Linked DNA regions of Homo sapiens: all the other regions are linked to region 1. The links come from fine-mapping of genetic effects on gene expression. A gene starts in region 1. Each other region holds a variant in brackets. All regions are shown on one strand. Distances are from middle to middle.

Region 1 (8,105 bases):
TGGAACAGTTAAAATAACTTGATGGAAAAAATCCTAGAAAATGTATTAATACTGTGCTAGGGGAAGAGTTTTGTGAACTGGGGATCCTCCCTTTTAGGGGATTATGAGCAAGGGTAGGTGTTGTATAATCAGTAGATGATTTCACTAGATAAGGGCTGTGATAGGGACAAGCACAAATATATCCACATAAGGGGTCAGGGAACATTTCTGGACTTGGATGAAACACCAATTTGTTTGGTGTGGAGGTCTGCTTTCCTACGTTGCCTGTAGAAGATTCTTATGAATAGGGCAAGCGTTAGTTCTGAGCATTTTAGATAAGGCTGTAGGGGACTGATTCAGTTGAGCCCAGAAAGATGGGCCCAAATGAGTGGGTGTGGGACAGTTCAACATAAAAAGGGGTAAAGCAAGAGAGGGAGGCTATGGAACACAAAAACGAACAGATGGCCAGATGGAGAAGCAAAGCCAAGTTTTGTCGGGCCTGAAGCTTATCACATTTTGAGGACTTCATTAAGAAAAAGAACACAAAATTAAGTATAGAAAATTAGGCAGAAAAATAAACATCCTTGGAGGAGGTGACACCTAAGCGGAGAAAGAGCAAGTTCATGGAAGAAGGAGGAAGGGGTTACAGACCTGTAGTTCGAGGAGAAGACACCTTCTCTGACATGTTGTTGGGGACCCAGGGGTGGGTTGCTGGAAGTCCTGGAGGAGGTGTTGGGGGTAGGTAGGGGGGATGAATGCTCACAGCTGGGCTGGAGGGCCTCAGAGAGACAAGATCTTAAGAACGGAAATTCTGCACCCAGTTTTCAGAATTTTCTAGGCCCACTGCACAATGAAGGCGTTGTACTGTCTTGGTGAAAAACAAATGGGAATACATGAGGTGTAATGCATTTTTTGTCTTAAAACTGAGCAAAGACATGGTTTTCTATTAATAGCTGCAAGAAGTGGTCAAATTTCCTTCATTCATTCTAAAAATATTTTATAAAAGCATAAAAATACAACTGTCCATGTTTTGAGAGTCCATGTTTTACATTCTTCTCCTTTTCTTTCTTTCTTTTTTGCAGAACCGTCAAGTTCAAAACATGTTTTCCTTTCACTTACGTATTTACCACTGCTTAAGTATTTATTAAGCACCTACTACTTGCCCCACGTGCTTCTAAGTGTGGGATATAGGAATGAGCAACATTAAGTTTCTGATTTCATGGAGCTTGTAAGAGGAGACAGACAATAAGCAAATAAACAAACAAATATATCATACAACTTGAACCCACACACCTTGGAGGGCTTCTTGTAGCATTAGTTCCAAGCATTTTAGATAAGGCTGTAGGGGACTGATTAAGTCGAGCCCAGAAACATGGACCCAAATGAGTGGGTGCGGGACAGTTCAACGTAAAAAGGGGTAAAGTAAAGGCATTCTGTAAAGGGGTAAAGTGGTAGGCATTCTGTCATCTCTCTGCTTTTGGACTTGGATGAAATACCGAACTGTTTGGCGTGGGGTCTGATTTCCTATGTTGCCTACAGAAGAGTCTCATGAATAGGGCAAACATTAGTTCCCGGCATTTTAGATAAGGATGCAGGGAGCTGACTAAGTTGTGTCCAGAAAAACGGGCCCAAATGAGTGGGCGTGGGATGATATTCAGCATGAGAAGGGGAAAAGCAAGAGGGGGACGCACAGGACACAAAAACTGACAGCTGGCCAGATGGAGGGGCAAAGCCAAGTTTTGTAGGGCCTGAGGCTTATCACATTTGTGAGACTTCATTAAGAAAAAAAAATACAAAATTAAGAATAGAAAATTAGATACAAAAACAAATGTTTAAAGTGAGAAATGCATCACAATAAGTTACAAATTTTAAAAGGCTAACAAACACCATAAACTTAAACAAAATACATAAGACATGACATTTTAATAAACTGCTTGACACACTTCTATGACATTATTTTCATTTTTCAGTTGCATACCCTTTGATCACTTCTTCAGTTTTGTAAGATATTTTCTATAAGAACAATAGGAAGTTACTTCACACACAGGTGAACTTGCTTTTTGTTGTACTACTACAGCCTCATGTCCTTACAAACATGGGAATTCAGATCATTCATTTCATGTGATTTTTCTCCAAAAATGTATGATGCATTTGTAAGTGTATCTGCTGCATTTAGAGTACAGGTACATTTCTGACAGCAGACAACTTCTGTTTTGATCAGGTTTAGTAGAGAGAACCAAACCTTCTCTAACAATGTTGTGTTTTCTTCTGTTTGTTTCTTTTTGAGACAGTGTCTCACTCTCGCCCAGGCTAGAGTATATTGGTTGATCAAGGGCTCACTGGAGCCTCGACTTCCCAGGCTCAAGTGATCCTCCTACCTCAGCCTCTGGAGTATTTGGATTACAGGTGTGAGTCACCACACCTGGCTAATTTTTTTATTTTTGGTAGAGACAGGGTTTCGCCATGTTGGCCAAGCTGGTCTCGAACTCGTGGCCTCAACCGGTCTGACTGCTTCAGCCCCCCAAAGTGTTGGGATTACAGGCGTGAGCCACCGCACCAGCCGATATTAGGTGCTTTATGATGGAAAGAATTGCCAGACTAGCTTCCAGCTCTGCCCATCTCAAGCTCTGCTACTCTTGCTACTGGAACCCTTCTAGTGTTGGGGAAAGTAAGACAGTTAAGGGCACCAATGTGACTCTCACAGAGGGTCATAGGTATGTCAGTGGTAGCCATTCCTATACCTGGATGGCTAGCAACAACATATCTACATAGGAGAACTGTAAACCACATAAATATATCCTGTCATCACAGCCAGGGCGAGGGAGAGGCAAGTCAGGTACCTGAGGCTCAAAACTTAACATTGGCACTTGCCTGACCCTGAGAGTAAGGGCCCTCTAAATTTGTTGTTTTTTGATATTGCCTCTGAATGCTCAATTTGTCATAAATTTTGCATCCTTGACATCCCCCTTATCTCACCTTCATCCTGATTCTGTATCCCATTACACCCAAACAACCTGTTTGGGTCTCCCCAACTTCACTTTCTTTGGCTGATCCCCAAAATCTTCATGGCCTCTTCAAAGTCACTCAATATGAGGGTAAGTTACAGTTTAAAAAGACAGTGAACATAACTGGTGGTGATTAAAATACTTTTTTTTTTTTCAAAATTTACAGAAACATATTACCACGTGTACACATTGCTAGGTCTTCCAATGTGAAAGTGTCCTTTGCAAGTCAGGGGTCCTGGATTCAAGCTTCTAACTTCTTGATAAATCCATCTCTGCATTCTGACCATGGCCATACGTTCAAGATTACGTTTATCATACTGACTTATTTTTGCCTCCAGGATTTTGGTTAGAAGCTCAGGCTCTGGGGCTAGACTATTTGGGTTTGGATCCTGGCATTGCCACTTACTAGCTTGTGGAATCCCAAAACGTTACTTAATATCTCTGTGCCTCAGGTGTTCTCATCTGTAAGTAATGTTAAGATTAAAAGAATTAGTTCTTGAAGAGTGCTTACAACAGTATCTGACACATTATGAAAGTTCAGTATTTGTTATTGTTATTTTTACTACCACTAGTATCAATGTGTATTAATAATATGTGGCCCTTCTCACACCACGCTGTACACCCCCAGGACTCTTGGTATTCTGACTTGGCTAAGAGGCGTCCTTTTTCTGAATAGACTGTTGACCACATGTAGAAGGAAGGCAGAGAGAGAAATGAATCAAAGGGAAACGGAATATTTTTTCAGACATATTAATGTCTCCGAATTACCTTTAAGTAAATGAAGGAATTGGGGGTATAAAAAAATTTCTGGAGCATACATGTATAAAGGTTCACGGCATGCCGAAAGACAAAGTCAAAGGAGCATTCACAATGGAGCTGGCATCCTTTTGCTTCAAAATGAGAAAAAATCACACGATCAGCTGCAGTTAGACTTAAGGAAAAAAGCTGTCTGTTAATTCAATCTCATTCGCAGGACAGGCCTCCAGGACACTTCATTTTTCCCCCTGGGTGGAGCCGTGGCCAGCCGGGGGCTCCACGGAGTGAATAGGAGGCGGCTCAGGCTTCCTGGCTCGCGTGGGCGCCAGAAAGCGGAACCTCCCGGGCCAGTCGCGCGGTGGTCACCCTCTTGGGAGCTGGGGAGGAGGCTGCGGAGGCTGGCCCGGCTCCTTCGGGCGTCGCTTCCCGGACCGGGTGCGCGGGGTCCCCCGGAACGTGTGTTCCAGGTCCTCCCGCGCCAGTGTTCGCAGTCCCCGCCTGGTCGCGGCGGCGCCTCGGGCGCGGGTGCAGGCGCGCGGCGCGCAGGCGGGGGGCGCTGTGGTCTTGGCGCGGGGACCGAGCCGCTCGGCCAGACCCGCCTCTTTTCCCTCCCCGCCAGCCCGCCCGCCTGCCCGCCCCCCACGCGTCGTGTCGCCGGGAAGCCGGGCGGAGACAGAGCGCTTGGGATCCACGGCGCTCGGACCGCTGTCCTCCAACAGCGCAGGGCAGAGCGGCTGGCGCCGCCGGAGCGCGGAGCCACGACCCTCCCTGGCCGCCTTTGTCTACTGGCCGTGCGGCCCGGAACCGCCACTCTCCAGGGCCGGGGACGCGCCCGCAGCTGTCGGTGACAGCTCCTCCCTACCGCAACCCTCCGGGGCGGAGGGGCGGTCGGGCCGGGCCCTGCTAGCCCGCGACCGCAAGCCCGCGCTCGCGGATCGATGCCCCCGCAGCAGGGGGACCCCGCGTTCCCCGACCGCTGCGAGGCGCCTCCGGTGCCGCCGCGTCGGGAGCGCGGTGGACGCGGGGGACGCGGGCCTGGGGAGCCGGGGGGCCGGGGGCGTGCGGGGGGTGCCGAGGGGCGCGGCGTCAAGTGCGTGCTGGTCGGCGACGGCGCGGTGGGCAAGACGAGCCTGGTGGTGAGCTACACCACCAACGGCTACCCCACCGAGTACATCCCTACTGCCTTCGACAACTTCTCCGGTGAGCTGGCCGGGGGGCCGGGGCCGGGGGCGCGTGGCCGCGGTCCACCCAGGGGAAGGAAGGTGGCGCGAGGGTCGCGAGGTTCCCAAGGGGGCTGCAGGGCCCCGGGCGCGGCTCCAGCTGGGAAGCCGGACAAATGAGGAGTGCAGGACGTTTCCTGAGTCTCAGGGACCGGGCAAGCGCGGAGCTAACACGAAAGGACCACGGCGGAGTGGGCTTGGAGAGAGGAGGGCGGAGCGGCAGTCAGAGCCTTGCCAAAAAAAAAAAAAAAAAAAATCTCACAATTTAAGCAACAGATAAGTAGGAGTGAAACAGGTTGAGTTCAGGGTGCCCGGTCAGTTTGTTGCATAGAGCAAAGTTTCCTGAGGGCGACGTCGCTGGCGCCGCTGCAGAGTTTCAATCAGAAGGTGACGCGCAGGTGCCTTTACCTGAGCGTCGCTCCTTTGCTTTTAGGCGGCTCAGCTCACAAGGGGCGTCTCCGCTTTAAAGAGCCGCGGAGACGCCGGGAAAACACTTGATTTAGTGAAAAAGCGCGAGCGGCCCTCGTGAAGGCTTAGGTTTGGATGAAACCTGAAGAGTAAACACCATTTCTTTCTTCTGAGCCCCACCACCTTCCCTGCCCACATGGGCTCGGATTCTGATTGTTGGTATCTTTTCAGGATCCCTTTAAGCTACTTAAAGCTCCTATGTACCGGGTGCGATGCCATTTCCCTTGGTAGATACAAAGAGAAAGGAATTCTCTATCTTGCTATTCAGGTCTTTTTGAAATTTAAGAAAAAGTTAAAATTCACAGAAACTAGTATGAAACACTTAACTGTCTTGCTTCTTTAAAAAAAAATTGCTTCTCTGACCTTCCTTTCATCCCAAAGGTACCTTAGAGAAATGGGTGCTGTACTGGTGGGTTCCCACCGCAGGGTATTGTTTCTTCCCCTCCCCCCACCCCACCCCTGCAGCTGACTAGTATAAATATTTAGAAACAATTAGAAAGTTGTGTAGAAAGAGACAAAACTGACTGCTTAATTAAAATAGAAACCTCCACAACATGTCCTGCTGCAGGCCTCTCCACACTCCCCGAGTCCCCGGATCCCAGTGGAAAGGGGGCCATGGCTTTCTTTTTTCTTTTTTAATCCTCCTTTTGACCTGACATAGAGATAAGGAGTGCCCTCATTTCTTAAACAGGACAATGCGGGCAGCCTGTGTTTGCACATGTTCTCAAAACACACTAGAATTGTATGATAAACCCTGAAGTTGGGGAACCTTTCCCAAGGGAAAACAGAATTATTTGTGAGGTTTTCCACTGATTTAAAACTGCAGGGTTGCTTCCCATTTACCCCCAGTGTTGTTTTTAGGTCCTTTGAAACAAGTGTGACAGGAAAATAAATCTTCCAGGACTGGGAGAAAAGCATAGGCCTTTTTAGGGTCACCATCAAAGCGTTCAGGGATTTGCTGCCTGGTTCACGGTAATGGAGTGACTTGCCAGCCGTGGGTTTGTATACAAAAATGCCTCCACAGGGCCTCCTTGTTTTTGGCTAGTCTTTAATTCATTAGAGGACCTAAAATAGGAGCAAAGGGGTTTGGAGTGAGAATGATAGTGAAAGCTAAAACTATTAGTATTCCGAAAGGGGTTAAAAGACACCTCCTGATTGTCATTTTGGTTTTGTTTTTAAGCGGTGGTGTCTGTGGATGGGCGGCCCGTGAGACTCCAACTCTGTGACACTGCCGGACAGGTCAGTATCACGTTACAGCTCAGTGCTGGGAAAGGAAACAGCCTTTTAAAGATTTCCAAATAACCTTTGATTCCCTCAGTCAGTAACTGGGTCATTCTAAAGCCTCATGAAGTGGACCCACCCCTGCTGTTGGCCCTTCTCTGAGGGTGGGCAGGGGCCAGGTTATTGGCCGGCAGGAAGCAGAGGAAGATACCTCCAAACTAATAAAGCAGGGTTTGGCCCAGCTCTGCGTAACCAGGCAAGGGAGGAAGCAGTGTCAAGAACAGCTCTTGTAGGAGTTTCTATTACTTACTCCCTGGTTTTTATGAAAAAATTTCAGTGATGCTTTGTCATCATTTCCCAAACTAAGTTAGTGATGTCTTATAATCGTTTTATTAAAGGCCAGTGAGTCAGATATTGAAGAAATTTGCTCAAGAAAAAGATGGAATTTACATCAGTAAGGGTTAATATTTCCCTTCCTGAGCTATGGTTTGACTCGCTAGGACCAGCCCCATCACTTGAAGCACAGATACATTTGTCAGAGCAGTCCTAAGCTGGAGGGATGAACTAACTGGGCTTATTCTATCCAAACTGTGAACGCTGGTTCTTGTCTCGAGGGCTGGGCCCTTGGAGGAAATAGCCAGGGAGTGTAGGGTTCCCTCTTTGTGTTCCCCAGAAGAAGCCCCCATTGGTGGGTACTCGAGTCATTGAAGTCAGGCTGTGCCTTGTGAACACCCAGGGGTACTTGATTTTGGCAAAGTGATAGTTAATGAACTTGTCTCTCTAGTATGTTCTAGAGTTCAGCAAAGTTCCGGGGGTACTTTGTAGGCAGGTGAAAGTGCCCCCTTCACTTTCTGAGGTGCCATCACATGACTATCTGTGTTTATGAAGGCACTGGCTTTCCACTGCCCCCCAGAGCCTCATCTACGCCAGAGCTTCCAAGTTGCTCACCTACTCTGGGACAGCAGATTCAGAGCTAAGGACAGATCTTATTTTTTAAACCTGAAGATGACATAAGACCGTGGAGCCTTGATCTCCAAGGAACACCGGGCTGGTGCAGGCCATAGCTTGGGAGCACTTCAGCTTGGAAAAACCAAGCACTGTCCGTATTGTATTGTCTGTAGAAAACAAAAATCAGGCTGGGTGTGGTGGCTCATGCTCTTTGGGAGGCTGAGGTGGGAGGATTGCATGAGGCCAGGAATTTGAGACCAGCCTGGGTAGCATAGCAAGACATCATCTCTACAAAATAAAAAAATTAGCCTGGTGTGGTGGCACTGTCTGTAGTCCCAGCCACCAGCCACTCAGGAGGCTGAGGTGAGAGGATCGCTTGAACCCAGGAGTTTGAGGCTGTAGTGAGCTATGATGGTGCCACTGCACTCCAGCCTGGGCGACAGAGCAAGATCCCATCTCTTGGGGGTAAAAAAAAAGAAAAATCAAAGAATACAGTCACTTCTAGCAC
Region 2 (8,105 bases), 350 kb after region 1:
TCATATGTTGAAATCCTAGTAGCTCAGAATGTAACTATATTTGGAGATAGGACAGTTAAAGATAAGACCTTAAAGTTAAAATGGAACTATTTAAAGAGGTAGTTAAGGTGAAATGTACCCTAACCTAATCTGCTAGTGTTTTTATAAGAAGAGGAGATTAAGACACAAGGAAAGAGACAGCAGAGATGCACATGCACAGAGAAGAAAACCATGTGAGGACACAGGGAGGAGATAGCCATATGCAAGCCAAGGAAAGGGGCCTCAGGAGAAGCTAATCCTGCCAACACGTTTTTTTCCTTTCTTGAAAGAGGGTCTCACTTTTTTCCCCCAGTTGGAGTGCAGTGGTGTGATCATGGCTCACTGGAGCCTTGAACTCCCAGGCTCAATCTATCCTCCCACCTCAGCCTCCTAACGAGCTGGGACTACAGGAGCACATCACCACGCCCAGCTAATTTTTCCATTTGTTTTTGTAGAGACAGGTCTCACTTTGTTGCCCAGGCTGGCCTCAAACTCCCGTGATCCTCCCACCTTGGCCTCCCAAAGTGCTAGGATTACAGGCATAAGCCACAGTGCCTGGCTTATCATCACCTTGATCTTGGGCTTCTAGCCTCCAGAACTGTGAAAAGATAAATTTCTGTTATTTAAGCCACCCATTTTGTGGTATTTTGTTACAGCAGCCGTAGCAAACTAAAACACTCTCTATCCATGTATGTGAAATCTCTCTCCACTTATTTAGATTTTCTTAGGTTTATTTCATCAGTTTTCTTATTTTCCTCATACAGATCTTGTACATAGTTTGTTAGATGTATACCTACATATTTCTTTCTCTTCTAGTTCTTATGTAAGTTGCATTTTGTTTTTAGTTTTAAATTTCAAGTGTTCATTGCTGGTATATTAAAAAAAACTGACTTTTGTATACTAACCTTGCATCCTGCAACCTTGCTATAATTGCTATTAGCTCCAGGAGTTTGGGGTAATTATGTCATTTGTGAACAAAGAAAATTTTGTTTCTTCCTTACCAAACTACATACCTTTTATTTCCTTTTCTTGTCATATTGCATTAACTAGGACTTCTAGTACTACTTTAAATGGGAGTGATGAGAGGGGATGTCCTTGCTTGTTCCTGATCTTAGTGGGAAAGCATCTAGTTTCTCACCATTAAATTTGATGTTAGCTCTGTATTTTTTATAGATGTTCTCCATGAAGTCGAGGAAGTTCCCCTGTATTCCTAGTTTGCTGGGAGTTGTTTTTGTTTTGTTTTATCATGAATGGATATTGGATTTTGTCAAATATTGTTCTGCATCTGTTGATATTGTCATAAGATTTTTCTTCTTTAGCCTATTGATGTATTGTATTATGTTATGAGCTAAATGTGTGTGTCCCCTCAAAATTCATAGATTGAAGCCTTACACTGGTGTGACTGTATTTGGAGATAGGGCCTCTAAGAAAGTAATTACTGTTAAATAAAATCAGAAGGGTCTCTGATCTGATAGGACTAGTGTTCCCGTAAGAAAAGACGTCAGAGAGCATGCCCTCTCTTTCTCCATGCACACACACCGAGGAATGTGAGGACATAGCAAGAAAGTGGCCACCTACAAGCCAAGAAGAGAGCCCTGACCAAAAACCCAATCTGCCAGCACATGATCTTGGACTCCTCAGGCTTCAAAGCTGTGAGAAAATAAATCTCTGTTGTTTAGGCCACCCAGTTGTGGCATTTTAGCAGCTAGACCAGACAGATTACATTAATTGACTTTCAAGTATTGAACCAGCCTTGCATACCTGGAAATATATCCCACTTGGTTGTGGTGTATAATTATCTTCATACATTGTTGAATTCAATTTGCTGATCTTTTGTTGAAGATTTCTAATTTTTACCTTTTATTCTTTTGGTTTTCGTTTGTTTGCTTGCTTTGTTTTGTTTTTGAGACAGGGTCTCACTCTGTCACTCAGGCTGCAGTGCAGTGTTGTGAACATGGCTCACTGCAGCCTTGATTTCCTGGGCTCAAGTGATCCTACCACCTCAGCCTCCTGAGTAGCTGGGACTATGGGCATGCACCACCATGCCCAGCTATTTTTTTCTATTTTCCGTAGAGACGGGGTCTCACTGTGCTGCCCAGGCTGATGTCAAACTCCTTGACCTCAAGTTATCTTCCTGTCCCAACCTCCCAAAGTGCTGGGATTACCAGAGTGAGCCACCATGCTTAGCCTGTTGGGAATTTCTGCATCTGGGTTTGTGAGAGATATTGGTTGCTAACTTTCCTTTCTGGTAATGTCTGTGTCTAGTTTTGTATTAGGATAATCCTAGCTTCACAGAATAAGTTAGGAAGTATTCCTTTTGCTTCTGTTTTCTGGAAAAGAGTGTAGAGAATTGGCAGAGTTTCTTTGTTTAATGTTTGGTAGAATTCACCAATAATCCATCTGGGCTTGGTGCTTTCTGTTATTACTGATTCAATTCCTTTAATAGATATGGACCTATTCAGATTATATATTTATTTCTGTGTAGGTTTTGTGTGCATTTTAGTAGATTGTGCCTTTCAAGGGATTGGTTCATTTCATCTAGCTTATCAAATTTGTGGGCATAGGCTTTTTCATAATATTCCTTTATTATTCTTTAAAAGTCCACGAGATTAGTGGCAGTCCTCTTTTATTTCTGATATTAATAATTTGTATCTTCTCTCTTTTTTCTTAATTAACCTGACTAGATGTTTATCAGCTTTATTCATCTTTTCAATGGACCAGCTTTTGGTTTTATTGATTTTTTCTCTAGGATATCCTATTTTAAGTTGTTTCATTTCTACATTTATTTTGATTACTTGTTTTCTTCTGCTTACTTTGATTTTAATTTGCTCTTCTTTTTTCTCATTTCTGAAGGTGGAAGCTTAGATTATTAATTTTAGATCTTTCTTCTTTCCAAATATATGCAGTTAATGCTATAAATTTCCCTCTAAGCACTGCTTTCACTGCATTCTACAAATTTTGATAGGTTGTATTTTCATTTTCACTTAGTTCAAAATATCTTTAAATTTCTCCTGAGACTTTTTCTTTGACTTCTGTGCCATTTAGAAGTGGATCGTTTTATCCAAGTAATTGGGGGTTTCTCCCACTGTCTTTGTATTACTGATTTCTAGTTTAATTGTACTGTCATCTGAGAGCAAATTTTATACAGTTTCTATTCTTTTAAACTTGTTAAGGTGCGCTTCATAAACCAGAATGCAGTCTCTTGGTGAATTCTGTGTGAGTTTAAGAAGGATGTGTATTCTGCTATTAATGGATGAAGTATTCTATAAATGTCAATTAGATGCAGTTGATTGATGCTGTTGTTCAGTTCAACTATATCTTACTGATCTTCTGCCTACTGGATCTGTCAATTACTGATAGAGGGGAGTTGAAGCTTCCAAATATAAAAGTGAATTTATCTATTTCTCCTTGGATTTTTATCAGTTTTCTCTCACACATTTTGTCTCATGTCAGTTCTTTTAGGTGCATGCACATTAAGAATTGTTATGTCTTCTTGGAAAATTGACCCTATATCATTACATAATGTCTCTCTTTATTTTGATAATTTTCCTTTCTCTGGAGTCTACTTTGTCTGAAATTAATTCGTGGGCTAGAATTTGATATTTTCCTTCCTC[C/T]ATGTTGGTTAGGCTCTGGCTAAATAGTTTCTCCTGAGGGGAAGCCTTGTTAAAAAGAACAGAATGTTCTGGTGTATTTTTAAATGGTTACTTTTCTTCTCCCTGGCCAGAAGTACAAGGAGTTTTTCTTCAGTCTTTACAGAAGTTGGTATATATCCAGTGCCTACAACCCCTTTGCATAGCAATTGGGGATTATCTATTAATACAGAAGAAGTGCAACCTCAGGGCCCATGATTCTGCTTGTCACATATGTGCACAGGAACCTTAGAGAACACTCATCACAGCACTGTGTGTAAAGAGTTTACAAATGAATGAACGACTTGTGGATAACTAACATTACCAGGGGTTTCCAGCAGCAGCAACGTGTGTTGAGCTGGAGCTACTTGTACTAACATGGGTAAATCTCAAAAACAAAATAAGTTTAAAAACCAAATTGCATATACTATACACAAAAATTAACTCAAAATGAATTAAAGACCTGAAAGTATAATATGAAAGTCATAGAAGAAAACATATGGGAAAAACTTCATGATATTGAATTTGGCAAGAATTTCTTGGAGGTAGCCCCAAAAGCAGAGGCAACAAAAGCAAAAATAGACTAATGGGATGACATCAAGCTTAAAAACTCTGCAGCAAAGGAAACAATTAACAGAGTGAAAAGACAACCTATGGAATGGGAGAAAATATTTTTAAATGATACATCTGATAAAAAGTTAATAGTCAGAATATATAAAGAATTCCTACAACTCAATAACAACAACAACAAACCCAAATAACCCTATTTAAAAATGGGCAAAGGACTTAAATAGATATTTCTCCAAAGAAAATATACAAATGGCCAACAAACACATGAAAAGATGCCCAACATCACTAATCACTAAGGAATTCAGTCAAAACCACAATGAAATATCACTTCATACCCATTGGGATGGCTAGTATAAAAACAAAAAACAGAAAATAAATTTTGGCAAGGATGTGGAAAAATTAGAACCCTTGTTCAGTGTTGATTGGAATGCAAAATGTTGTAGTCACTGTGAAAAACAGTATGGAGATTCTTCAAAAAAATAAAAATAAAACTACCATATGATCCAGCAATCCTACTTCTGGGTATGTATCCAAAAGAATTGAAAACAGGATATTTAAGAGATATTTGTACACCCATGTTTACAGCAGAATTATTCACAAAAGCCTAGAGGTGAAAGCAACGTAAATATCCATCAATGGGTGAATGGATAAAGAAGTGTGCTCTGTAAAGACAATGGAATATTATTCATCCTTAAAAAGGAAGGAAATTCAGTTGCATGTTACTCAGTGGATGAACCTTGAGGATATTATGCTATGTGAAATAAGCCAATCACAAAATACAAAAAGTGTATGATGCCACTTGTAAAAGGTGTCTAGAGTAATCAAACTCACAGGAACACAATGGTGGCTGCCAGAAGCCAGGGAAGTAGGGGTGAGGAGTTGCTTTTCAGTCGGTGCAGAGTTTCAGTCATGCAGGAGGGGAAAGGGGGCTTAGGAATCTGTTGCACAACACTTTAAGTGTGGTTAACAATATTGTACTCTACAAGTAGAAATTGTTGGGAGGGTGAATTTTAGGTTATGTGGTTTTTTGCCCTAATTTTCTAAAATAAAAAGCAAGTTGCAGAATCATATGTACAGTAAAAAGTCAAAGGATTTTAAAACACAAAACAATGTCACATAGAGTTTATTTATAGATGCATACATATATAGTAGAAATATTAAAGCAAGCATGAGAAAAATAAATAGAAATCGATGTTGGCAATGACCTCTGGGAAGAGAGTTGTATGGTATGGGTCAGGATTCTAGAGGAATAGTCATGTTTTATTTTTATTTCTTAAGATCTGGAGTGAAGTGGGTAAATTTTTAAAAGATTTGTTTTCAAGATTTTTTTATTTTTCCATTTGTTTGAAAAACCTGATCATTTTAAATAAAATCCTGGAGGCTCCCTCCTGCTCCCGACCCCTGACCATCCCGGTCACCTCCCTGCAGCCAGGACCAGCAGGGCAGGCAGTGCTGGAACCTTCTGCTGCTGTCAGAGTAGCCTCCACATGCTGGCATGTGCTTGTGATTATTGGAACTCATTCCTGGCTTTATTTATGCCACAGACAAAAATAATTCTCCCTTCCTGGGAGACATGTCATGGCTCCAGAATGTCTTGGGAGGAGAGAGCCAGAGGGTGGGACTCTTGGGGCCACACGCGTGCCTCTGCTCATCCAGACTATACCCAGGGCCAAGGGGGTGATAGACAGATGCCAGGCTCCTATTCCTTGAGAGCGAGGTCTGAGCTGGGATAATCCTTAGAGTCCAAATCAACCCGAAATATACATCAACCCTGTCCATCTCTGTTTCCCCCAAGGACCCCAGGTTAGTTGAGGTAACTCCAGGGCAAGCCCAAATCATACCAGGGTATAATTTAGGGGAGTGCAGGCTTCAGGCCAGACCAATCCCTGATGTTCCCTTTTTCCTCAGCATTCCCTGCAACAGAGCCTCACCTACCTTCGGGGCACTGCTGTGACATTTGGGGTTTCAAGAAAGGCTCAGAGTCAGCCTCACTTCAGGGAGAACCCAGGCCTGGCCTGAACCCCACGCTTCCCCTGACTCCAGGACCTAGCCTGACCCACCTTCGAGATTTCATCTCGGGCCAGCCCCTCCCACGCCGGGGTCCGGAGTCAGTGTGGGCTGTAACCCCCGGGGTCAGGAGTCAATGTGGGCTGTACCCCCTGGGGTCAGGAGTCAGCGTGGGCTGTACCCCCTGGGGTCAGGAGTCAGCGTGGGCTGTACCCCCTGGGGTCAGGAGTCAGTGTGGGCTGTATCCCGGTGGCATCCACCTGACTACTGTGCAGGCGGCTGGCGGCAGGTCCCGGACACATTGGGACGTGGTGTAGTTTTCATGCTGTGGAAGGCACCCTCCTTTCCCTGGCAGAACCAAAGGCCTGGCTAAGCACCTGTGGGGCTGGTCTGCACTGCTGTACTCCTCCCCACTCCCCTTCCCTCTGATACTGTGGGAGGGTCACCCCAATTCTCTTGGTCTTTCCTGGTGAACTTTCTGTTGGGCCTTAGGCACCTGCAGGTTGGAATGATAGGCTCTGGTCCACTTTCCAGCCCCAGGTGAAAAAGCTCAGGTCAACCTTTTCCCCTTCATTTTTCTTTCTCCCAGGGCTCTGCATGGACCCCTTTACACACAGCTCTGCCGCACAGGCTGCTGCCAGGTATAGAATCACTGCCGGCTCAGATACCAGGATGTGAAAAAAATCAGGACGAGCCTTAGAAAAGTAAGAGGATGGTGATTAAACACATAAATAAATAAAGCAATTAGGAGGAGGATGCATAACCAAAAAGCAAGGTAAGGAGAAAGAGGAGGGGACTTCAGGCAAGGCCTCTCCAGTTACTGTCATTAGAGCAGAAATCTGAGAGAGGTGAGGGGCCAGCCAGCGGGAAGGGCACCCCAGGTGGGGAACGACAGGTGTGAGGTTCTGAGGACAGGGGTGGGGCTGGGCTGGGCAAGGCCAAGGAGGGAGAGAGAGGCCAGAGCTTTGAGCACAAAAGGAATGAGATCCTTGTCACTCACAGGGCCAATGTTGGAAGCAGGACCCCAAGTAGGAAGCCACTTCGAAAGTCCAGGGGCGGTGACCAGGTTTGGGCAGTTTTCTTTACTGTGATGGAAGAGAACTGAGGGAAAGGTGGACGGGGACAGGGACTGCTGGGGACACTTAAATAATTTACTTTGATATTATTTATGCAAACTTTTAAAACAAACAGTATAATATATTTCTTATATATGATCATTCCCATAAACAATATATTTAAAATATGAAAAGCACAGAATAGAGCGAACATATCAGTGGTTGCCGTTGAGGAGGGGGAGAGAGGAGGGGAATAGCATTGAGGAATGGTTAAAGGGGGACATAAACTTTATGTGTCATGGTTTTATGCCACAGAGATATGAAGCAAAAATCACAAGTTATTATATTAGTGTCTGTTTTTCCGGGTGGTGACTGCTGCAGTATTGGCTACCATATTCTCTGTACTGTCTTTGTCTGGATTTTTTTTTCCCAATGGAGAATTGGGAGAGCAATGCCTTGCACTGCTGGGTGGATTCGATCCCCAGGCACTTCCTGACTCTCTTCATGCTTCTCAAAATCTCCCTGCCATGCAGGCAGGGCCAGCTCTGCCTCACCCTTTGGGTTTTGTGAGTGACTTGGCCAAGTCTACGGCTGGTAAATCTGGGCTGAGACTGGAACCAGGTTTCCCGGCTCCACAGTTCAGAGCTCTGTCCTGTGTCCTGGAGTCTCTAAGGTCCAGGAGACACCTCGACCTCCTGGAGGAAGATGCTGCCACCTAAAACAGGTTTCCAGGGCAACCAGCTTCCCCAGCTGCTTGGAAAGAGGAGGGATATCCAGGGCTCCCTGGTGGGCTTGTCATGCCCAGCAAGTCAGAGCCCAGTGGAGC
Region 3 (8,105 bases), 200 kb after region 1:
CTACAGGTGCTTGGGGTTAGAACAGCTTTTGGGCAGACACAGTTCAATCCATAACAGCCCTTCAGAATCACCACCATCAACTCAGTGCTTATTCAAGAGCCAGGGTGCAACATTGAATGCTGTTGGGCTGAACCATCTGCCCCAGAGACCCCAGGTCATGCAGGGCAGTCTCTACTGCATATTCCAAAGGTGTTCCTGGCCAGTCTGTTGCTGCTGATTCAATCACATGATTTACCATTTAAACCTCAGACTGGACTGATTTTGAAGGTGCGTGGAGAATTCAGTGGAGGGATCTCCTAAAGAAGTCAGGCTGCCAGGGAGTTCCTAGCCCTTAGGAGAAAGATACTTGGCAATTCCAGGAGGTTGAAAAGCTCTCCCTCTATCCTTGTTTATGAACTTTCACTCCCACCATTCCCTCACTCCACCTGGAGCACTCCTCTCCACCCCCTTTCTCCCTGTGGCCCACTCCAATCTCTTTCAACACCCAGAGCTCACCCTGCCTTCCCTTTTCTTTCCACGTTTACAAACTGGAAGTGCCGTTGAGTCTTCACTGGACTCTGGACCTCTTGCATGGAATGCTTACTTTCACTCCTGTCTTCCAGCCCTTCCTGAATCCCAGCCTACTGGAGAATGGGGTTGGAGTCTTCTTCAAGGACCTTTTCTCCCCAGACGCCCTGCAATGCCTGGCAGGGTGCTTTATGTGCAGAAGGGCTACATATCCTGGAAAGTGGGCTTGAAGCTTCAGGTGGAGCCCTGGAATTGATTGTGCCATTCCAGGAAACTTCCCACAAGCAGCCCAAGACCCTGATTGTCTACAGAAAATCATACAGACACCTTAATCCAGAGTTCTTTTTACCTTCAGGACTACTGCCAAGGTGGGCCTCCTGTGGGAGAAAAGGCTTCTGTCAAAATAGCTCCAAGTGTCCTGGTTCCACCTGAAACCTCCATTGCCACATTGCAGTGACGGGCCTGTCATTTGCAAAGTGCAGGCCACCAAAACTAGTTTCTGGCAGCAAATTGGCATGTACATATAACAGTTAGGTCTAAGGGCTCTGCAGACAGGATATTTATGAGTGGCGCCTTCACCACACTTTAAAGAAAATGGTCTAGTTGAAAAAATGATATAGACACATTCTCCCAAAGTTACTGACATTGACAGTCTTTCATGCCACTACTTGCTCTTCCTCCTCTGCTGGGTGTCCCCTCCACTTAGCCTGGCAGACTCCTCAGCCTTTAAGAACCATTGCAACCATAAAAATAATGAAATCATGTCCTTTGCAGCAACATGGATGCAGCTGCAGGCCATTATCCTACGCGAATTAACGTAGGAACAGAAAATCAAATACCGCCATTCTCACAAGTGGGAACTAAACATTGCGTACTCATGGATATAAAGATGGGAATAGACACTAGGGACTACTAGAGGGGGCAGAAAGGGAGGGAGGAGAGAAGGGTTGAACAAACTACTGGGTACTGTTTTCACTACCTGGCTGACAGGATCATTCGTATCCCAAACCTCAGCATCATGCAATATGCCCACCATGTAAACAAGCCTACACATGCACCACCCCCCCCCCGAATCTAAAGTAAAGTTGTAATTACAAAATAAATCAATAAATAAGTTAATAAATGAAAGGACCATCACATTGTTTTTCCTACAAGCAGCCTTCCCTGGTCCCCTCACAAGCACATCCTCTCCCTCAACGCTAGTCAAGGAACTCTTTCCACCAATGGGTTCCTGCAGCACTTTGTGAGGACTCAGTTAACACACTGTGGGGCTGCTTTTTCTGGCTTTCTTTCTGTGTCGCCACCAGCTTGAGGACAGAACACTGCTTTACTTCTGTCCCTGCCTCCCTGGGCAGGTTCTGGTGGTAAGGGCTGTTTTGTTTACTTTAAATCACCCCAGGCCTCTCTTGCCAAAGGTCAAGATTCAGTAGTCATATTCTATTAAAGTACAGACAGGACTTTGGACCAAAGGCAGAGATGTCACAGTGATCAGTGCCCACCAAGAGGACAACACTCCAGGCTCAGATGAGTCACAGCCAGCCACGCCTGAGGGCTGTGAGGAGGCAGACCTGGACCACCATGGACCAAAGGTCAGCCTAAAGCGAACTCACTTGCAAAGACAGGCAGATGACAAGGTCAAGCAAATGACCGGAAGTGGCTCTAGAGTAGTGGTCCCCAAGGGCCAAGCCATTTTACTATTGCCAAAATGCCCTTTATTTGAATAACTGCAGGTGACTGCAGTAGGGACAATTGTCTATTTTAATACCAGTCTTTGGAAAAATAGAAAACCGGCCACCCCGTGAAGTGTACAAGACTGAAAGCCCTGCTGCAGAGGAGGCACTTCTCATCGACTTACCGGCTGCCTCTTCCCACTGCAGTACTGATGAGGGAGGTAGCTAGCCAGGCATGAGCAGGGCAGGAGGGGCTCTCCCAACACACACACCAGGAATGTCAGACAACCATCAGGTGATGATCAGGTTGTTGTTAACTGTCTCTCTAAAATAATAATTGGGCACAGCCAGCACCAGGGAAAGGCAGTCTCCCAATAAACAGAAAACACCTGAAGCTGGTGATCAGCTGCTTCCCGATAAGGTTGCAGGGGATTGGGTGAGTGGGCTCAAGCATGCGCACTAAGAGGCAAAATGGAGGCGTTTAGCTGGCATATGACCTTCCTCTAGGAATGCCAGATTGGTAAGGGAAGAACGCCTCAAGTGAGCATGTGTACAACTCCAGTAAACACACTGTGCATGCCCCGCTCTCAAGCACCGTTACTGCGCATGGGAACAGCCCACCCGAACAGCCCACCCCAAGGGAAGAATCAGAGGAGAAGTAATGCAAGACCCTGGAAGCGTGCCAACATATAAACCCCAAATCAAAGGTCAAACCCTGCACTCGACCTCACAAGTTGCCTGCTTGGCTGTCTTCCAAGTGTACTTTACTTCCTTTCACTTCTGTTCTAAAACTTGCCTTGGTCTTTTCTTCTGCCTTATGCCCCTCAGTCGAATTTTTTCTTCTGAGGAGGCAAGAATGGAGGTTGCTGCAGACCTGCGCAAGTTGCCTCTACTAATGACATGTCACCAGAGCGTGTGAGCAGGGTGCTGGGCTGGGCTCTGGCCACCCCAAGTGCTCTAGGACAGCCCCTGCCTGCAAGGACTTACAGCTAAATTGGGACATGGGAACAGATGTAGACCTGTGGGCCCAATATAGGGTGCTGGGTGCCCCTCTGAAAGTGCGGCCCCAACAACACATCCTCGGGTCAAGGCACACAAGGCCTCTGGGTCCCCACTTCCACTCCACCAGGCAGATTCTACTTTTTTTTTTTTTTTAATGTACTGGGGCTCTGCTCATGGTTTATTTTAAAGAAAAGTTTCTGCTGCTTTAAAAAAAAAAATTGAAAACCCTGAAAACTGTCCCTCTGGCCTGAGCTCATTTCCTGGGTGAGGAAACAGAGGCCCCGAGAAGCCTGAGGACTGTCCAGCATCCCATGGCTGGGTGGCTGGTAGATGGCCAGCCCGGGCAGAGCCTGGTCTCTCGGTGATTTTCACTGTCTCTCTCCATTTGTGTCATATCTGTGTCCTCTCCATTTGCAGCAGGGACTTACACCTCCTTTTCACCTGCACCAATGCCAGGATGGAGATTTGCTTATGCCCCTTGGCCCTGCAGGCAGCCCAGCGACTCACAAAGTCTCAGGACCCTACTGCAGGGGTCCCCAACCCCCAGGGCCACAGACCTGTGCCAGTCCCCAACCACCCTGGGCATGCCCTGCAGAGGTACCAAGCCCGGGGCTGGAAGGGCGGGGATGAAGATTATGGATGCCATCTGAATCTTTTCAAATTCAACACATTTTTTTGGACACCAAAGCACTTTTTGTACATTTAAAAAAAATTACTCTAAACACTAAACCTGGAAGTTGTTTTCTGAAGAAGGTGAGGGGAGAGCACCTCCCCCAGGCAACCTAGATCCCTCGCATGCACAGTTCCCAACACGGAGTCTTGTGGAAGGGAGCGCTCAGTAAGATGTCATTTAGCTTAAAGACTGTGGATGCCTGAGCATGCCGCGTTTCCCGCAGCCGTGCTTCTTGCTTGGTGCTCAGTCTTGGCAAAGTCATCTCCGGCCCTACGTTCTCAGGTGTGAACGGTGGAGTCAGGGGTGCTGAGGGTCATGCTCACTCACCAACTACCCTGCACCAGCACCCTCCCCCCTGCACTGGTTTTCTGTGCTCTCGTTTGGTGTCCCCAAAATCTTGAGGCCTGTAGGATTATCACCACTACACAGAAGAGGAAACCGAGGGTTAGAGAGGTGGTCTGAATGTCTAAGAAGGGAGATCCAGGATTGGAACCCAGATTTGTACAACTCCAAAGCTCTCTTGTGACCTGTGCCGCCTCCCAAGGGGTGAGCAATCGTGCCTCCCTTTCCTCTGCTCAGCCACCCTGCAGCTCACACAGCTGCAGTAATGACTGCTCTCGAGAGAGCTGCCCCACCCAGAGGGGTTTAAGGCAGAGAAGAGCGGCCTGCAGCCTAGTTTCTCTCAGTGTGCCTTACAGCCAAAGCCAAAGACTGAGGCC[G/A]ACTCCCAGGACAGGGCCGCTACCCTGGCCTCAACACCACAAATGACTGGACGCAGCTGCTGGCAGAAAAAGCCGCACTCCAGGCATTTAGTACCTAACCGAAGAAATCCAAAGATTCTTATCTGTGCCTTGCTTCTCAACTGCAGAGGTTCTTCCCTTTTGTCCTAACACACTGGGAGGGAACTCTGCACTGATGACAAGTAACCATGAACGTGATTCCTTTCCCTCCTGCGGTGGTCATCTTCAGCAACTCTAGCCGTGAAGCCAGCCTGCCTGTCTCTTTCTTTGCTTGTGTTGGGTCATATTACTGAAGAAAGAATAATAGCAACACTGTTACCCGCCTGTGTACCAGTCTTTGTTCACGGGAGGTTTTAGGATCTCTATGACACACGCAGGCAGAGCATGCCACCGTCACTTAGGAGGGGAAGCCAGAGGTCTTGGAAGTCACACACTAGCAGGGAAGAGACCTAGGTTTTCCCATGGCTCACTGCAGCCTCCCTGAACTCTTTTTCCACAGATGCTAGGCTGACACTCCCTTGTCCCCCTCTAGAGCTCTGTGAACAGGAAGAGGTTGTCTTCTAGCTGTGTAGAGGCTGGGGGAACAGCCCACAGTGCAAGCCACGACTACCTGCTCTGAAGTGGAGGGGCTGTGGAGCAGACAGCAGACTTCTCCCAGCTGAGCAGAGCTGGGCAAAACAGATCGATCTAAACCGCCCTTAGCGGATGTTCTCATTTCCCTGCTGCCCTAAAAGTGGTGTCCGCCTGAGGTGAACACTATAAATAACTGTTCACAGGCGGGTTGTTAAGGACTCTATGGCCTGTGTTGGCAGAGACAGATTCCGGGAAGTCAGTGACTTGGTCACTTCCTACTTAAAACGCAGGGCACCAAGGAGCCTATTTTGGGCTAAATGCAAAAGCCTGGGAATCAAAGAAGAAACGTTAGAGGAGAGACCGACCTCTTGCTTTTAGCCACAGTTTGGAAAAGTTTTTTGTTGTTCTCAATAGTTCGATGGAAAGTGGTAAAAATGCTTTAATTAATTATTAACCTTGGTATTTTTCTTCATAGTTCTCAACATGCTTCACACACCTTTCCTTCTTTGAGCCTCAAAGCAACACTGTGAGTAATCTTATTGTTGTGAACCCATTTTACAGGTGAGAAGACAGAGGCAATAAACATAAGGGCTGGGCCTCACACCTGGATCTGCTGCTCCCTAGCCCCTAGTTATTCCTTCGCCTCACACCCAAGGCCATGATCTCACTAAAAAGAAACACCTTTAAGAGCAGGCACCCCTGCCTGATTCAGTCAGCAGTAAGCCATCAGCAGATCTTGCCCAGTTATAGCCTGGTCCACCTGTTTGTAATAAGCATAGTGAGAAGGACAGAATCACAGCTAGGTGGTTGGCAGGTTGAGTTGAGACTGACCACAGGGTGTGTTTGGTTTCTGGATGGGGCTGGGGTCCTTCTGAGCGTGAGACAATAGATGACACTCAGCCACAGGAGGCTGGGCCCAGCAGGGCCTCCGGCCTCAAAGCAGCGGGGTAGCAGCTCTGAAGTCAGAAGTTGAGGCTGCAGTCTTGAGGCAGAATTTCTTCTGTGGGACACCTCAGTTTTTGCTCTTAGGGGGATCAACGGAATGAGGCCCATCCACATGATCAGGGGCAATCTCTTGAAAATCAGCTTATTGTACATGTGACCCACACCACAAATACCTCCACAGCAACGTCCACATTAGTGTTTATTAAATAACCGGGTCCTATAGCCTAGCCAAGCTGATGCATGAAACTCACCATCACATCCTGTATCCATCTACAGCTTTCTAGGGCACTGTGGTAGCCCAGGTGAGGCGTTGTGCTCTAAACTCAATTCTCTGGAACAAAACTGCTGGGCCACTTTTTTGTTAGTTCCTGTATCTCTCCTCTGATGTGCACAATTGTGGCTCAGGATTATGAAGTTCCAGAGCAGAGGACAGGGAAGGAAAGAGGGAGCAAGTGCCTGGGAGGAGCAGTAGCCGGCTCTGCCACTCAAGTGTGTGCTTTTCCCCCAACCCACACCTGTCACTGAGGCAGCCGTCCCTGCTAATGGATGTGACTATGAAAGTATCGTATCCCAGTTCATCCAGAGACCAAATGGGGCCGCGTAAAAGAGCCACAGTTTTGCCTAAGTGAGATTGCAGCAGACACGAAGGAGAGCCAAGGCACTGGACAAGGACACAGGTCAGGCAGAAGCACAGGAACAAAACTGTTGGTCCCTGGTCGGGGTCCCCCAACTTCTCTTGCAAGCAAATCTACATATAAATCCACATTTTCTCATGACTATGGTTCAGTTGATGGTCAGCTTACAAGTAACACCTGGACATGGCAGTTTAGGGAGAGAAGGTTAGGAGGCCTAATCCTGTGATTTCTGGGGAAAAATGTTCTGTTGGAGGGGAACCCAATGTGCAGCCTCATGATAGAGTCCTGGGGAGATGGTTGATTTGTTAGATTCAGCCCCCAGAGGCTTGCCTTGGAGTCTCTCAGGGCTGACAGGACTAAGGGGGTCGCTAGTCAAGACAGGCCAGGGCACAGGCTCCTGGTGACGCATCTGTACTGGGTCTGCATTCTGAAAACAGCCTTGCTGGCCACTGGGCCATATGGACCTTGAGAGGGTCCCAAAGTCCATGAAATGGGGGGCATGGTGGAGATGGGAAGGCTGCATCCCTCGTCCCACTGGGTCCCCTGAGCCTCAGCGCCCTCCCTCCCTTGCTGGGGACAGCACTCTGTGGCTGCTGCTGGGCAGGGTGGGGCTTTGTCACCTGCTGAGTCCCCTCCATTGTCTCAGCGGACTCTGAGACTTTTCTTCAGGCTGGGCTTTTTCTGACTACTGGGGTGGTGGGGAGCAAGGCTGCTGTGCTACCTCATCCTATTGCCGACCCCCAGCGGGCCTCCCCTCTTTACCCAAGAGATAGCTTTTCCCTCATATCCCCACAAAATGCACACCTCTGCACTTTGAGGAGAATTCCAATGTGAAGTATGAGCTACAGGGTTGGAGGGCGTAATCTCAACTCCGTTACTGCAACTGTCCCCATAGTGTTGACAAATTGTATGCCGGGTTCTGGACAGAAATATCATTGTAATGAAGCATTACTCAGCGTGCACTTCTGCCCACTTCCTTGTTGCTGAAAGCCGTGCAGCACTGGATTCTGACCACTTACATCCCCGTTGTTCCTATAGACAGGATTTCTGGCATTAGGGTCCTAAGGCTGCTTAAGAATTAATTTGCATCTGCATTGTTCCCATAGACAGGATCTCTGACATAAAGATCACTTAATATGCTTTTCAGAACAGTGGATCAGAGTGAGAATACAGCTTCTTCATCTCGCCCTGCCCCAGGACTTCACCCTGCACTCATCAACCAATCAAGGATCTCCACACCTTGGCCCACTTCAAAACCTTTAAAAACTCTTACCCTAAACTCCTCAGGAAAATGGATTTGGGGTTCCTTCCCATCTCATTTGGTGACCCTACCTCTTTCTCTGCTGCAACCCAGTGTCTGGGC
Region 4 (8,105 bases), 240 kb after region 1:
GAGTCTCACCTAATAATCTCTTATTGAAAACACCTGGTTTCACTCTCGGTGCTGAAGACAAGCCCAGGGAGCCTCACACCCACGACAGCCAGAGATGAGAGGAGGGAAAGGCTCTTCAGGGAGCAGGAGCGTGGGAAAAGGTGTGGCCCAAGAGGGGAAGCAGCCCACTCTGGAAGGCATTGACTTTGGGGTTCAGTTTGCTCTCTCTGCTCCTGCGTGACTTTGGGCTGTCACTTCTTAGAATGTTAGTGTTCCCATCTGTACGATGGGGCAACTCATGTTGTGCTGTTAGAGTTAAATGAGATAGTGCAGACCCTCCTGAAGAATGAAAAGAATGAGATAGTGCAGACCCTCCTGAAGAATGAAAAGAAAAGAAAAGAAAGGAAGAAAAAAAAAAGAAAAGAAGAGAGGCTGCCCCATAAACCCCAGTGGTCTTGGCCAGCTGACACATGGCCGTCACTGAGCAGAGAGAATCGACAAGAAGGAAAGAGACACCAGGGAAAGAGCCCAGTGGGGAATGAAAGGCGTCCATGACGAGATGCTTTAGAAGACACAGAAAGGCAAGCCCAGGCCTCTTCTGCCTAACAAAAGCTATGGCACACCATACCTTGGCCAGGGAGTTAGCTCTCCTGACTTCCTGCCCTCCCTTGGGCCTGGGCTCTGCTCCCTGCCTTCCCTGGCCTCAGCTTCCAGCCCAGTCCAAGAGCACAGGACTGGAAGGGGCTGAACCACTGTCATCTGAGCCCCCATGTTCCTGAGGCCCCAGGGCGCTAGTTCTATAGTAGTCCGACATGTACATGGCTCCAAGCCCTGCCTAGGCTCGGAAGCCTCTGTCCTTTTTCAGAGCTCTGGGCTTCCTGCCTATGCTCCCTTCCTTATGCCCCATTCCAGCCAGGGGGAACCAAATGCTGGAGACAGCGGAGGGCCAGGGATGGAGACAGTGTGCCCCGCTGTGCTCTTGGAGGCCTGCATTCATCTGCACAGGGAGCACTGAGGGCCCTGCCTCCCACCTGCCCCTCCCCACCTCCTTGTCCCTGCCGCCTCCCCTTCCCTCTCTTTGGCCCACTGCACACAGCACACACCAAACCTGATTTTCATGTCCAAAAGCCTCCTGTACTGCTCATGGCCTAGTTCCATTTCTGGGTTTCATTAGTTCCCTGTCACCCATGTGGGGAAAGGAGAGCTGCAGACCATCATGCCGGTCATTTACTGGGCAGGCAGGAGATGCTTTGAGAGATGAATATATGTTCATCTGATGAGATTAAATATATATATATATATTTTTGTGAGACAGAGTCTCACTCTGTCGCCAGGCTAGAGTGCAGTGGCGTGATCTCGGCTCACTGTAACCTCTGCCTCCCAGGTTCAAGTGATTCTCCTGCCTCAGCCTCCCAAGTAGCTGGAACTACAGGCGCCCGCACCATGCCCAGCTAATTTTTGTATTTTTAGTAGAGACGGGTTTTCACCATGTTGGGCAGGATGGTCCGATCTCTTTACCTCGTGATCTGCCCGCCTCGGCCTCCCAATAAATACATTATTATCTCATTCATTCATTCATTCACTCATTCACTCATTCGTTCCAAATGCCTTTTCGTTGCTTTGCCTGGTTCTGGGTGCCATGACAGAGACTTGTCCAGGATTCTTTAGGGCTGAGAGCCCTAAGTTGCTCCCGTGTTAAAGACATAGACAGCACCCAAAACGTGGAGTTCAGAGATGAGTAACCTGCCCAGGTTGAAGTGACACTCTGAAAGATGCCCTCATGGAATTTATTCAGAGCTCGAGACCTGGCTTTCCGGTAGCAGTTTGGTTCTCTGCAGGTGGCATGCAGTGCTGGGCTTGTGGAGAGTTTCTCTGAAGCTCCTGGGGGACTCCTGTCTATTCCCACAGACTCTCCTCTCCCAGCTGGGCAGCATCTGGTTGTCCCTGTGGTGTCTTGTGGTGTGGTCCTGAAGACATGGCCCCGATGGAGAGTTGTTCATACCACAGTCCAAGCTCTATTAATAAAACACTGCTCAGACGTACTGTCATTGAAGACCATCAATAAGTGATTTCTCTAAACCTGCCACACAGTTACTGGCACCATCTTCCCAAACACAGACCAGTCCTGTGACTGCCCCTGACATCCTGAGATGGTTAGGATGAAGAAGACAGACATGCATGTGGCCTGCAAATTGAGGCTAGGGTGGAAGCCCATGTGTGTGTATTATGATGTAGTGTGTGTGTGTGACGGCGTGCAGTATATGTATAGTCTCAGAAGAGTCATCTCACCCCTTGGTCTCAGGGTCGCCATCCATGTCTGTGATTCTTCAAACCCAGGTATTTTTATTTTTATATTTAAATGCTAATCAGAAGCATAGGTCACATTTCACACAGAAGAATCTGAATCCCACTTCTGAGCCCCGCTGCTTATTCCTCTGTGATACCTGGCACCAAGAAATGGTGTTCCCTGTTTCCGACAGGCAGCTCTAACACCTACCTACTGGCTTAGGTGCTTTTTGTTTCTAATTGAATTGCCACTGGAAAACCCACGCCCAAGCTTGTGATCTAAATCTGTTTTGTTTTCTTCGTTTCTGTCCTTTTCTGAAAGGCTGTGGATTTTCCGTGTAAATTACACCTTTTTCTTTTTAAGCTGATTCCTTTTAGGGCTGTGATGACAGGATCGCCTCCTTACTCCTTAAGATCATTCCACTGTCCCCTGGATTTCTGGTCCGCAGGGCTGGGGGAGGAGAGGAGAAGGGAGAGGAAACGGGGAGGGAGTGCTGGCCCCACCTGCTCCTGCCTGGTTCTTCACCCACTCCACACCCACATCTGCTCTCTTCCTGGCCTTCATCTAAAGGAGCCCGCAAGGAAGAGTGTGGCGAACATTCATTCTTGACTGTAACGGATAAGGAGACTTTATCTGCAAACGTACAGAGGTTTTATATAAGGGTCAAGGCCTCAATTTAAAAGAAAATATCTCTAGAGATTTTCAGGCCTTGAAAGCTTTGTATGTGGGGAAGGTATGTTTGTGTGTGTGTGCTATGGTGTGTTGTGTGTGTGTGTGTATGTTAGGGTATGGATGTATATGTGTATTATGTGGAATGTGTGTGTTATGGTGAGAGGTATGTGCCTATGTGTTATGGGAAGGTGTGTGTGTGCTGTGGTGGGGGTATGCGTGTGTGTATGTGTTGTGGTATGGGGGGGGTGTATGTAATGTGTTGGGCATGAGGTGTGTGTTAAGATGTGAAGTGTGTATTAGAATGTGGAGTGTGTGTCTTATAATGTGCGTGTTATGGTGTGGGATATGTACTGTGGTGTGGGGTGTGTATTTTGTTTGTGTGTGTGATGGTGTGTGTTTTTTGGGGTGGGGTGTGGGATGTGTGTTATGCCGTGGGGAGTGTGTGTGTTATGGTGTGCAGTGTGGTGTATGGGTATGGTGTAGGGTGCGTGTGTGTTGGTGGGGTGGGTCAGGGTGGGAGATGAAGGTAGTAGGAAGAAGGTTTTCTTTAGCCCTGGAAATCAAAGCATCTTCGTTCATTAAACATTCATTGTGCACTTATGTGCCAGGAGTGAAGTATAAACACTGGCGATTTAGGAATGAAATCCTACCCTCATTTTGTGCCCAATTAGTAAGACCATTAGAGCCTCTTGTGACATTTAGGTTTTTTGTTTGTTTGTTTTAAATTTACATGTTAATTGCTTTACTTGGAAACAATTCTGGAATTCTGCTTTCTGGCATCAAGAGAGCGCTTAGAAGTTCTTCCTAAAGACACTTACAAGGTCCTTCATTCAATCAACAATCATGCACTACAAGCCACTGAATGCCCAAGTGTGCCCTAGTCTGCACATAGCCTATATGCTACGTGCAGCAGGCAACAAGACAAATGGGAGGTAGCTGTGCTACCCTCAGAACTAACAGGAATGTGGATGGCCCCAGGGAAGCTCACTGGCCAGCCCTGCTCTCTGCTTCCTGTCCCCAGACAATCTGTGTTCCCAAAGCTTGCTTCCATCCCTTGCTAAGCAGCTAGCTGTCAAATCTCCATGTCCTCCACTCTTTCCCCGAGTAAGGAAAGCTCTTCCAGGGACCCTGGAAAAGCATGTCCCAGCCAGCAGCCCGCCTTCTCTCTGCTCAGTGTCTTCCAGGTTGTTTGGCCTCACTTGTGCCTCGGCCGCTTTTGCTCTGCCCTGATTTGCTGACGCAGCGTGTCAGGAGTGAGTCTGGCCCAATGCCTAATCTCAGCCAAATGTTTGACTCCGGCTCAGTTCCCAAAGGTTCCCTGGAGGGAAAGCAGAGTAACAAGTGAGACCCATCAAGGCATTTTCTCTGGAGGGAAGCTTGTGGCGACCTTCAGGTGCGGTACAACACCACACAGCCTCTGGGTTCCACCCAGAGCTAGCTGAGAAGTGACCATCTCGGGGACACTTTGCATTTCCAGATGGTGACTGTAGTGGCCACCTTCCAAACTCACTGCTATGAAGCACCAGCTTGTCAGCCTCTGGACTCACCCCTAGCAGAGCTTCCGCCTTTCCTGAGCCCAGTGGGGTCAGACACCTGGCAAAGGAAGGAAAAAAGGGCGCAGGTGTGTGTCTGCCAGGGGGCTGCACAGCGTGGATTCCAGGATGCTGTTCTGCTCCTTGTGCAGGAGTTGAGTCGGGGATGGGTAGGTAGAGGGCTGGGGCAGAAGTGAGGGGTGCCGATGCTTAGTGGAGGGACCAGGTGCCAGGCACCACTCTGTGCCACACCACCCACCGCAGCACGCAGTGGAGTTTGGGTCTTCAGCTTTGTAGATACCCAAATGGGAGGGTTCTGCTTTTGCATCCTCCCTCGTGCAGCACCAGGTCAGTGCGCTGATGAGGC[C/A]AGTCGGGGCTGGGGCCCCCTCCTGCAGGGGAAGTGGAGGAAGGGACAGTTAGTGTATGGGAAGATGGGTTGCAGCCCAGTGGGGGAAGGGACTGGAAGTTGTTGGAGCAGAAGAAGTTGAGAGGAATCAGCACTACTCTCCCTAGCTATCAATTTAACTCTTTCATTGATACGTTAACTCACATACTTATCCAACAAGCATCTGCTGAAGCCAGACACATTGTAGGCACTGAGGGAAAATGCCAGCCCTCTAGATCAGGGCTTTCAACTTTTAAAATCATAATCCACAATATACCGTAAGACATAGCTTTTACGTGGTGATCCAGCGCACATACAACTATTCACACACAGAGACACATGCAGACACACACACATCCACACAGACACACACGCATTCACAGAGACACATAATACACAGACACACACATTCACACACACACTCACACAGACCCACACACAAACACACATTTGCACACACCCATTCACACAGAGACATATACAGACACACAGAAACACACATTTGCACAGACAGAAGAAACAAAAGTTCTACAAAACAAGCTGGTCCATACCATGCGTGACGCATCTTGATATGTTCTCTTCTTTCATGCTGATCACCACACACTATGGGCCCTTCAGCATTCTGAAGAATGCTGCTCAAGCCAACAGTTTCATCAGGATGAGAACCATGTGCACAGATATTTACAGCTCTAGGTTCTGCAGTAGAGGTTTCTCCTGAGCTGGGAACTGGAGCAGGGAGGCTGGGAGGGGCCACCTGGCTCAGCTGGAGCAAGTGATGAAGGGCGACCCAGGCCATCTGACAGAGGAGGTAGAGCTGGGTGCCGCAAGCCAGCTGGAGGTCTGGGGAAAGGCACCCAGTTATGCGTGGAGGGAAGACTTGGCCCAGAGGTTCCTTCGGATCTTTACTACTTAATTCTTAGAAAGCCCAGTGCTTCTCGGGTCCCCAAGGCCTCAGCACGGGATTCCAGTCTCCTGTGGAATGTGTGTTATTTTGGCTGTGTTTAGATAGAATGAACTGTTCACATAAGTATCATTAAATTATGCATAATAGACATCACATATCAGCCCTCTAGCTGATATTGAGCTATACAGTCATGCACTGCATAAAGATGTTTTGTCAATGACAGGCCACATGTATGACAGTGGTCTCATAAGATTATAATGAAGCTGAAAGATTCCTCTTGCCTAGTGACGTCACAGTGGTCATAACATTGTAGTTCAATGCATGACTCCCATGTTTGGGCGATGTTGGTGTAAACAAACCTACTGTGCTGCCAGTTACATAAAAGCACAGCACATGCAAGTGTGTACAGTACATAATACTTGATAATGATAATAAATGGCGACATTCCTCCCTTGTGTATTTACTATATGCTATAATTTGGATGTTTGTCTCCCCAAACCTCATGTTGAAATTTGATCCCCAATGTTGAGGCCCAATAGGAGGTGTCTGGGTCATGGGGGAGGATCCCTCACGAATGGCTTGGTGCCCTCCTTGCAGTAATGAGTGTTTCTCATTCTATTCCTTCTGTTGAGGGCTGGTTGTTAGAAAGAGTCTGGTACCTTCCCCGTCTCTCTCTTGCTTCCTCTCTCACCAGGTAGTCTGCCCGTGCTGGTGCCCCTTCACCTTCCACCATGATTGGAAACAGCCAGAAGCTCAGCCGATGCCAGCACTGCACTTCTTATGCAGCCTGCAGAACAGACAGCCAAATAAACCTCTTTAAAAAAGCAAATTACCCAGCCTCAGGTATTACCTTATAGCAACACAAATTAATGAAGACACTATCTCATTTTTTTATGATTATTTTAAAGTGTACTCCTTTTTCTTACAAAAAAATATTAAGCATAAAACAGCTTCTGGCAGGTGCTTCAGGAGACATCCAGAAGAAGGCATCTTCATCATGTGATATGACAGTTCCATGCGTGTTATTACCCTGAAGACTTCCCAGTGGCATGAGATGTGGTGATGAAAGACAGTGATATTGATGATTCTGACCCTGTGTAGGCCTAGGCTAATGTGTGTGTTTATGTTTTAGTTTTTAACAAAAAAGTTTAAAAAGAAAGAAAAATAAAAAATTAAAATTTTTGACTGGGCACAGTTCTCACACCCATAATCCCAGCACTTTGGGAGGCCAAGGCAGGAGGATAGCTTGAGGCCAGGAGTTTGAGACTAGCCTGGGCAATATAGGAAGACCTCATCTCTACAAAAAAAAAAAACAGCTAGGTGTGGTGGCATGCAACTGTAGTCCCAGCTACTCGGGAGGTTGACGTGGGAGGATCACTTGAGCGCAGGAGTTCGAGGCTGCAATGAGCTGTCATCGTGCCCCTGCACTCCAGCCTGGGCGACAGAACCAGACCCCATCTCTTTAAAAAAATGTAAATAAAAAAGTTTATCAAATAGGAATATAAAGAAAGAAGATATTTTTGTACCACTGTACAATGTGTTAGTGTTTTAAGCTAAGTGCTATTAAAAAAGAGAAAAACAAATTTTAATTAAAAATTTTATAAAGGCTCAGCATGGTGGCTCATGCCTGTAATCCCAGCACTTTGGAAGGCCGAGGTGGGCAGATTACCTGAGGTTGGGAGTTCCCGACCAGCCTGACCAACATGCTGAAACCCCGTCTCTACTAAAAATACAAAAATTAGCCGGGCGTGGTGGCAGGCGCCTGTAATCCCAGCTGCTCAGGAAGCTGAGGCACGAGAATCGCTTGAACCTGGGAGGTGGAGGTTGTAGTGAGCTGAGATCAGGCCACTGCACTCCAGCCTGGGCAACAGAGTGAGATTCTGTCTTAAAAAAGAAAAAGTTTATAAAGTGTGTAAGTTATAGTAAGCTAAGATTAATTTATTATTCAAGAAAGAAAAACATTTTAAAGTACATTTATAGTAGCCCTAGTGTCTAGAGTTTTTAAAGTCTGCCGTAGGGTATAGTAGTGTCCTAGGCCCTCACATGCACTCACCGCTCACTCACTGACTCACCCAGAGCAACTTCCAGTCCTGCAAGCTCCATTCACAGTAAGTGCTCTCTACAGGTGACCATTTTTTATCTTTTGTATTGTATTTTTACTGTCCCTTTTCTGTGTTGAGATATGTTTAGAAACACAAATACTTACCCTTGTGTTACAACCGCCTGCAGTATTCAGGTCAGTAACATGCTGCACAGGTTTGGGGCCTTGGAGCAATCGGCTATACCACGCAGCCTAGGTGTGCAGAAGGCTACACCATCTGGGTTTGCGTAAGTATACTCTGCGAT

Alleles and levels. Alleles are on the strand shown, and positions count from the first base shown. SD is a standard deviation of normalised expression in the study named. Not every link is listed here.
As copies of T replace C in region 2, the expression in tibial nerve of the gene that starts at base 4,415 in region 1 goes up (moderate effect, 0.41 SD a copy in GTEx).
As copies of G replace A in region 3, the expression in atrial appendage of the gene that starts at base 4,415 in region 1 goes up (small effect, 0.20 SD a copy in GTEx).

What was found.
Region 2: its variant is fine-mapped to the expression of RHOU in tibial nerve (GTEx, PIP 0.96).
Region 3: its variant is fine-mapped to the expression of RHOU in atrial appendage (GTEx, PIP 0.95).
Region 4: its variant is fine-mapped to the expression of RHOU in whole blood (TOPMed, PIP above 0.99).

What each region holds. Positions count from the first base shown.
Region 1 is chr1:228,731,065-228,739,169 of GRCh38, forward strand. RHOU (ras homolog family member U) reads left to right here and starts at 4,415. Exons shown (of 3, transcript NM_021205.6): 1 at 4,415-4,940; 2 at 6,609-6,667. The coding sequence starts at 4,679.
Region 2 is chr1:229,081,776-229,089,880 of GRCh38, forward strand. It overlaps LINC02815 (long intergenic non-protein coding RNA 2815), which reads right to left. Exons shown (of 5, transcript NR_186727.1): 5 at 5,325-8,105. Among named protein-coding and RNA genes, the nearest start is that of LINC02815, 69 kb to the right of the region's middle. RefSeq lists an enhancer at 6,281-6,999. The variant C/T (reference allele first, on the strand shown) is at 3,633.
Region 3 is chr1:228,933,435-228,941,539 of GRCh38, forward strand. The region is part of intron 2 of LOC124904539 (a long non-coding RNA gene); the gene reads right to left. Among named protein-coding and RNA genes, the nearest start is that of RHOU, 200 kb to the left of the region's middle. The variant G/A (reference allele first, on the strand shown) is at 4,572.
Region 4 is chr1:228,974,724-228,982,828 of GRCh38, forward strand. No RefSeq gene overlaps it. Among named protein-coding and RNA genes, the nearest start is that of LINC02815, 180 kb to the right of the region's middle. RefSeq lists an enhancer at 4,566-5,172. The variant C/A (reference allele first, on the strand shown) is at 4,838.